Linked DNA regions of Homo sapiens: region 1 is linked to region 2. The links come from fine-mapping of genetic effects on gene expression. A gene starts in region 2. The other region holds a variant in brackets. All regions are shown on one strand. Distances are between the middles of the regions.

Region 1 (4,384 bases), 36 kb before region 2:
AAGCTGAAATGGTAAAAGTGCTAAGGTGGCAGGCTTACCTGGTGAGGGGGTGGTGCCTGGTGTTGCCCCATGTTTGGGCATGGCCTCCTCCTAGCTCTGTCTGACAGGACCCAGGAGGCACGCTCACCTGCATCAGGTGCTCAGCAGCCATCCCTCTGCCTATTAGCTGCACCTGGGCCCTGCAGAGCGGTGCCCAGCTCTGGAGAGGATAGAGTGGAGGAGGTGTGGGGAGGTTCTGCTTCTCTGAGTAGTGGAGACAGTGGAGCCCACTCACAGCTCTGGGAAAGTATCTTAATGGAAGGAGTGATGCAGGTCTCTCCACAATGACTGAGTGCACAGTATGTGCCCAGCTCTACGCTGGCCTTTGGGATGAAGCGCTGACCTCTCCTTCTCCCTTCTTGGAAAAAAGCCCAGAACTATCACAAATCTGCCTCCTGGGTTCTCCCTGTACCCCAAGCTTTAGTTCAGGAGGTAGTGACCTTTTGGTTTATGACTATCTTTGGAGAAAAAGTCAAGTTAACACCTATGTATGTTGAGCAGACACTGGCAAAATCCAACATGCCTAATGTTTGTTTCTCTTTAAAACTTCCCAGAGAAATTATACACTATTACACATCTTGGGGTTTATCTATGGCTTCCTTTCTTGCTCCCCACATTTTGGCCTTTCTCTGGTTTTAGCTTAAGGCCTAGGGAACAAGAAATTCAAATGTCAAGTCAACAACAAATTCAGCAAATATTTACAGACTGCCAAATGTGTGCCAGGCCCTTTGCAAAACTCTGGAGACCCAGTCATGGACAAGACACACAGGGCCCCTGTGGGACCATTTTCTGTTTGAGAGATGTGCTCCTGAGAGTCGCCCATGCCCCCTCACAAACCCCAGAAAGCCAGATCTGGCAGAGCCGGCAGCACTATGGAATATGTCTGACTCCGAAAGCCTGAAACTCTCCCTGTCTGGGGTTGTTCAGAGGCTTATGACTGGGCTTGGTTTGTCCAAAAGAAAGCCATCCTGCACACTCTGGAGCTGGCCAAGTTAGCTGCTTATCTCTCCAGGACAGGCCTTTTTTGTTCTGTCTGCTGCACATTGGGCCCTTCTAAGGGTGTGGTCTGTATGGCCCTGGCAGGAGCCTCCTTAGAATTGGGGGAAAGGATAGAGACTTCTTCAACACCCACTGGGTAGGGCTGGGAGTGGCCCAAGTGCAAAGGAAGTACAATTTTCTTCAGTGGCCTGGTTCTTCCATTTTATCCTTATCTCTCCCATGTGTTACCTGCCAGGCTGTGCAACATCCTAGCTCCTCCCCAGGATAAAACCATAAGCTCTCCAGGAGTTTCCAGTCTTGTTAATATACTGGGTGCCTTGAACCAAAGCACAGTGCTTTGCCAATAGTAAGTGCCATAAAGTTTGGTTTGTTGAAAAAATGAATTAGTCCATCAATTAATTATTAATGACTAATGGTTAAGCCCTTATACTGGATTACAACCAGATAAAACTGGTTGAAAGCTAGTTCAACTCCCATTGCATGAGGTAGCACAAGCTAATTGAGATTATTTCAATGTGAGGAATCCAGACTTCTCAAATTTGGTGTTCAGATTTAGAAAAATTTACATGCAAAATGAGTGTCACCTCCTCAGGGGAAAAAAATGTAGAATCACAGAATCAAGAACTAATCAATCAAGAATCAATCAATTACAGAATCAAGTTGAAGTTGACTGGACATTTGAGGTCACACAATCTGCCCCGTTCATTGCTGGGATCCCCTCTCCAGCATCTCTGACTTATATCCCTAATTTTCTGCAAGTTCTGCCCATGGACTGTGAAGTTAGCCCAGGCCTAGAGTGTGGCCACACAGGCTCCTCTCCTCTTTGCTCCCTCAAAGGCAATGAAC[C/A]AAACCCAGGGCTAGACCAGATCCTCCCCATGACTAAGCATGACCAAAGCTATTTAAATTCTCTGCATTTCAGCATCATTAACCATAAAAGATGATCAATCATCTCTGACCCTCTAGATCTCACAGGAACATAGCTAGATGAATGAAATATCTGCCAGTGTTTTAAGAAACATATCACAAGGCCAAATGTGGTGGCTCACGCCTGTAACCCCAATACTTTGCAAGGCTGAGGTGGGCAGATTGCTTGAGCCCAGGAGTTTCAGACCAGCCTTGGAAACATGGCAAAACACCATCTCTATGAAAAAAATACAAAGATTAGCCGGGTGTGGTGTCATGTGCCTGTAGACCCAGGTGCTTGGGAGGCTAAGGTCGGAGGATCACTTGATCCTGGGAGGTCAAGGCTGCACTGAGCTATGATTGCACCATGGCACTCCAGCCTGGACAACAGAACAAGACCCTTCTCAACAAAAGAAAAAGAAAAAAGGAAACATATCACAAAAATTAGACCATATTTTTCCTTATAATATCTAAGAGAGCAGGATGGAGGACCTGCCTTTATGCCAGACAGAAATGAGGCTGCTGCTTGGTCTGGTGTGGGGTCTAGAGTCCAGGGCAATGAGTCTCTAGGAATTCCTAAACCCATAGTGATTCAGGGTACTTAGTGCCCCAATGGGGGGAGATCTTAGTCATTGCCAGAGCCCACTGATTCTGAGCCATGCTTGTCATTCCTTTAGAGGGAATTATCTTGGAGAAGAATCTTTGAGAAGCAACATCACAACCACTGCTGTCATCAGCTAGTCCTGGGTCGGGGACCTCCCCAGCAGATGGTGGAAGAAAAAGGAAGAAGGGCATAATCTATACTTACTCTTGGGGTTGGGATAGCAGAGAAGACATGGCTTGACCTTTGAGAGGACAGGGAGCAAAACAAAGATTGGGGAATACATTCGTGGGACTAGATTGTCAATTCTGATCAGAGCTGTGAGTGAAGGAAGTGGTGGAAGGGGAGGAGATAATCAGTGAGTTGAAATTCTTATTGGTTGGGCCCATCCCTCTAAACTTGTAGGGCCTAATAAACACTTTGAGAAAACAGAGTTGGTTTACAGTCATCCCCAACACTTGAATTATCTGAAGTTTATTAACTAAGCGCCCTAAGTGTTTACTCCCTGGAGAAAAGAGTGAGTCACTGGATTGCAATGTGTAAAATCGAGACTCATAGGGTGCTACGGCCAGGAGGCTCTCCAGTCCACTCCTCTACCTCGAGGCAGAATTCACCTGGCCACTCCTACTCTTCAGGATCCCCATGGAAGGCGATTCATCAAATCTCCTAACTTGCCCAGGCCAGCAAGACCCCACCCTGACCCAAGGAAGGTCTTCAAGGATCTAGCTTTCGTGCCTTCCACTCCATTTCATGGGAGCCTAACTCCTCTTAAAGGATCAGTGAAGTTGTGGTCAGCAGCAGGAGGCCCAGTCACCTGTCCGTCATGGCATGGCACCCATACCTCTCTGCTTGTGAAGGCCCCTTTTAACACACAAAAAATTACATTGACCTTCACACATGTCAGAACTCATACTTCCAGTATCCTTTGAGAATATACATTTTTTACTATGAATTTAGCAACACTTTTAAATAAAAGTGCAGTTCATAGTCATATACATTTGAAAGTGGTAATACATATACATAAAAAGACACATTATTCACTCAGTCGAGAGACACTTGCATCCATGTGCATTCTCAGAATCCTTGCAGTCCTGACACAACAGCAACCCTAACTGGGGCCTCTCAGCCTCAGGTCTCAAGGTCCTGCCCCTTCCACGGCTGGACACCTGCCCCCAGCTGAGATTCCCCACTGAGCACTGTTACCACCTGTCTTCCCTGCCTTTGTGTCCATCAGCCTGTGGCCCTGGCAGGCCTTCAGCAGATGGGAACTGAGTTGCGATGAATTTGCTCTTGCCTGGCCTTCCATAGTAAAACACACACACTCCCCTGGTTTCTGTATCACAACCCTTCCAATATTAGAAAATACTGTGGAATTCACAGACACCAACCTCCCAGTTAGATAGACCCAGTTGTTTCTCCCAGTCCTCAGTACAGATGGTTTCCGGGAATCTTCTCTGCACCCACTTTAATATGTTAATGGACCTCTTAAAACTACAGTGCCTTGCTAAGATAGGATACTTAAGGTGGCTTCATGTGCACCAGAACTAATAAGAAGCCCCTTCCTGTCTGTGATGGGGGCACTGTGCTTCTTTCAATGCAAGCTAAGATTCTGTTCCCTTCTTTAGCTCTTGACTTCCATCAATCCTGCCTGGGGAGGAGGAATGGTAAGGCATGGGTTTGTTGGTGGTGGGGGCAGGGGGTTGTTTTTGTTTTTTTGTTTTTGTTTTGAGAGAGAGAGAGAGAGCCCCTCACTCTGTTGCTGAGGCTGGAGTGCAGTGGTGCAATCTCAGCTCACTGCAACCTCAACCTCCCAGGCTCAAGCCATCCTCCCACCTCAGCCTC
Region 2 (4,384 bases):
ACTTTGGGAGCCTGAAGCTGGAGGAGTGCTTGAGCTCAGGAGTTCAAGACCAGCCTAGGCAACATAGCAAGACTGTCTCCACTAAAAATCAAGACAATTAGCCAGGTGTAGTGGCATGCACCAGTAGTCCCAGCTACTCAGGAGGCTGAAGTGGGAGGATCACTTGAGCCCAAGAGATGGAGGCTGCAGTGAGCTATGACTGTACCACTGCACTCCAGTCTGGGAAACAGAGCAAGACCCTGTCTCAAAAAATAATAATAATAAATTAAGAAAATTGGTGAACTGGGTGAAAGAGTATACAGGAGTATGTTGTACTATTCTTGCAACTTTTCTGTAAATTCAACATTTTTTCCCAAAAAAAACTTTTTTTAAAGTACCAATGTCTGAGCCCTTCCTCTATAGACTCAGAAGGAGGCTTACGGTGTGGGTTTAACAGGACCCCCGAGAGTTCTTGGCCCAGCTGGGGTTCCAAGACAATCTCTCAGACCTCCAGCTCCCAAGCTGTGATTCTGCAATCCTGAGAAAGGTTTTGGCTTGTTTGGCCTCTGGGACAGTCCCACAGGAAAACCAAAAGTCACTAGGGGAGAGGGTGAGGAGGCAGGCAAGACGGCTTGCTTCATATTCTGTCATCCAATATCTCCAGGTCCCATCTCCACACTACCTGGGCCTCAGTCACATGCCCTGGGAGCATCATGCAGCAGGTGTGCCTATTGTGAGCAGTAACAACTCTTAGTGCCAAGAACCACAGAGTCCAGGGGCCTGGGTCCCAGTCCCGCCTCTGCCTCCAACTCCTTGTATCATCCTGGGCAAATCACTTGAGCTCTCTAGACCTCAATTTTCTCATCTCAAAAATGGGCACAATATCACCATTTCTGAGTCTTCATAGAAGCACTGTGGGTACCTCAGGAGAAAAGGGATGTGCATGTTCTTCGGAAACACACAAATCACTGAACCAAGGTACATTTGTCTGCCAGACCTTCCCCATCATGACCCGCTGCCTTGGCTCAGGATCGAGGTGGACAATGCCAGCGAAACAGACCAGGAAATCCCAGCACAAGTGTTGCTCCCATCCATCTGGAGGCAAGGGCAAGGTTCAGGGCATGCCTATGGGCAACAGGTCAAATTCCACATTCCCAGAGCTTGGTGACCTGGTGACCACCCTCCTCATTGTCCACCCCAAATTGAGCTTCTTCACTCAGAGTGTAAAAAAAGGAGAAGCGGAAGGGAGCCTACCCCTAGGACCCCACCCACACACAACTGTGTTTTGATCACATCTTGCCCTTAAGCCTCCTCCAAGCCTGAAAGAATGGAACAAACAGGGCTCCATGCTCTTAGCCTTGAACAACTCTTTCAACTCCTGAGCATTGTTTCCCCAGCTGTAAAATGACAAAAGGCAATGCAGGCCACCCCACTAAGAGGAGCTATGAGGACAATCCATTTTTTGATGATGAGGTAAGGCTACTGTGCAATCAATCGTATTAATCATGGTGGTAGGACAGGCTTCAACACGGGCAAGGTGGACTTGGCAAACCGGACTCATGAGTAGACTGGAGACTCCCCCCGCACAGGCACGGTGAAGACCTGAAGGCCGCCTCCAGCCACCCACGTCTCGGCATCCCAGGCTCAGACCGGGAGAGCTCCAGAGCTCTATCAACCACCACCCTAGTACAAGTGGGCTACAGCAGCCCTGGCCCAGCCCACCCTCTATTAGAGGTCCCGCTTCTTCCCCAAGAGCTCCCTTCCTCCTTCCTGCTTGGCCCACCTTGTCGATGAAGGAGGCGAACTTGTTGTTGAGGGTCTTGATCTGCTCCCGCTCCTGAGTGCGCACTCGCTGGATCTCGGGGTCAATCTCCACATGGAGGGGGGTCAGCAGGCTCTGGTTGACAGTGACCTCCTGGATCCCCCCAGGAGGACAAGCAGGCCCAAACGTCTGCCTGCCAGCCCCCTGTCCCATAAATGCCCTGCTGCCAAAGCCAAAGCCCCCCAGAGCCCGCCCCAACAAGGCCCCTCCGGCCACACTGACAGAGATACTCTTGTGGCCCCCCAAGTTATAGAGGCTTCGGCTGCCAAAGCCACCTGTGCCGGGGCCACAGTGGGCCCCGCCACCACTGCCACTGCTCCGAGACACCGTCACTGAGCTGAAGCTGGTGCGGGCCTGGGACCCACTCCCTCCGCTGGCAGAGTTGGAGCTGAAGCCCCCTTTTGTGGAGTATGTTTGCCGAGAGACGGAGGACCTCATAGCTGCAGAGGGGCCGGAGGGCAGGATGAGAGGGCAGGAAGGGAGTGCCGTGAGCTGCTGGGCCACTGTGGGCTTTTTATCTTTTCCCAACTGGGCCGGCTCCCCAGCTCCACAGACACTCCTGCCCCATCGCCCCAAGGGGAGAGGGAGGGGTCCTTAGGGCCACGGGGAGTGCCCTCTCCCCAAGCAGGAGGGAGGGGCCCTCCCGGTTATCACCTGTGCTCCAGAGCTGGGGCTGAGCCGAGACTGTCTGGGGCAGGATGCCACCTTCTCCCCCTGCCCCCAGGCTCTCCTCGGTTGGCACAGGATGATACGGGCTCCCATGGCCACCCCCACCACCCAGTGGCTGGCTTGCTGTCCTCCCACCCAGCCCCAGAGGCCACTGTCAATAGGGCTCTGTTCTACGGGGTTTGTCCCAGGCCCCTGTTGTAAGCCAAGGCTGCAGGGCCTGGGGCTGTACAGGTGGTAGGAGAAGGAGCATTGGGCAATGGGCTGCCAGAGAGAGCATCCAGGCCTGCTCCCATCCCACCCCCAGCCAACGGCCCACCACTCCTCCCAGGTCCAGGGTGTGTGACACAGGTGACAGGGCGAGAGTGGGGATAGCCTGTGCCTCTGCCGTACAGTGGCAGAGCCTTCTGGGAAGTGAGCCTATGCTGGCAAAGTGAATTCAAGGACAGAAAGAGGATCCCTGCCCAATCGTGGGGCCCAGGCCCTTGATCAGGAGGTAGAAAAGGCCTGGGGTCCTCAGGCAGGGCCCAGAAGCCTGGGAGCAAAGGACATTCTTATGGAGGCTGAAGAGAGGGCAGGGGATTTAACCAATACCTGAGATCCCTGAGCCTCTACCCCACAGCAGAGTCCCCACAGAAAGGTTCAGCCACTTTGGAGGGAGCTGGAGGTGGGTCAAGGACACAGACCACCCTGGGTGGAGACAGGCACAGCTCCAAAAAGCAGGTGTTCCAAAAAAGCCCCAGGAGGCCCACGCAGCAGCCCCGTCACTCCCATCTTCCCCTGCCCCACATGCAGGAGCCCATGTTTCTGATTCAGAGGGGCCAGGGGAGCTCCTTAAATCACCTCATATGGTCCCCGCCGCCCACTTCCTATTCACCTCAGTCTGCTGGGACCAAACACAGCCCCAAGCAAAGACAGAGACGTCAACTGTCAGGGCCGAGGGGTGACTGAGGAGGTGACTTTAGACACTGGCCCTCCCCACCCCCTTCTCTCAGCAAGAAGATGGGCTCAAAGTGAACAGAGACTTGCCTGAAAAAAAGGAGCGAGGACAGCATCGCTGTGCTCCCCACCCCCATCAGATGAGCAGGACAACCAGCCAGGCTGTGTCCCCAGGATCCCAACAGAGAGGACATGGGACTGCCACGGAGAAGGCTTGGCCTCCCTCCCATGTTCCCCACAGCCCAGCAAGTGAAGAGACAGCCTGCTCCAGGACCAGAGGGAGCTGTGGGATCTTCTCCTAGGGCCCCTGGGAGGCTGTAAGTGGCTCCCCGTTGCTTGAAGAGGTTGAACCCAGCTCCCACAAGGAATGGGAGTGAGAGCACTTGCAGAACTAGTCCCTTAATAGCCAAGAGGAGATTTTGGAGTTAGGACACTGGGCATTTCAGGGAGCCAAGCCGAGACGTCTCCCACACTGAGCTGTGTGTCCTGGGGCAACTCGCAACTTCTCTGAGCCCCATTTTCTCTGCCTATAAGCAGGGCCCTCCGTGGAAGACCTTTCGAAAAGTGATCCCTGGATGAAGCCGCCCCTTCCCACTGACCTTCGTCTCCTTTCCCCAGGCTGAGATCACTTTCTCAGCCTCCCTTATCTCTCCCTGGGTGGCGTGGGAGGAGGAAACAGTCATGAGTGGGCCCTAGCCTCCAGGATGTGGCTGTGGGCCCCCTGGGCAAGGAAGTGTTGTCAGCCCTCTGAGTCACAGGGCAGCCAGGCTGGTGGGAGTGAGAGGCAGTCGATAAACACAAGTCTCACCTCACCCCAGACACGACACTCACGCCAGTCCCTTGCACACATTTACCAAGCACGCTCTCTGGGCCACGCTTTGTGCTGGGAGCTGGTGACAGGCACACAGGGACCAGGGCACACTCTCATGGAGCTCCCGGCTTGCTGCTTGGAGACAGCCTCCCTCCCACCCAGGTTCA

The links. PIP is the estimated chance that this variant, and not a neighbour inherited with it, causes the effect. A credible set is the group of variants that fine-mapping cannot tell apart.
Region 1: its variant is the best candidate, but not a certain one, in a credible set for the expression of KRT79 in whole blood (TOPMed, PIP 0.87).

The regions. Positions count from the first base shown.
Region 1 is chr12:52,796,269-52,800,652 of GRCh38, forward strand. No RefSeq gene overlaps it. Among named protein-coding and RNA genes, the nearest start is that of KRT3, 2.3 kb to the left of the region's middle. The variant C/A (reference allele first, on the strand shown) is at 1,885.
Region 2 is chr12:52,832,022-52,836,405 of GRCh38, forward strand. It overlaps KRT79 (keratin 79), which reads right to left and starts at 2,290. Exons shown (of 9, transcript NM_175834.3): 1 at 1,763-2,290. The coding sequence starts at 2,239.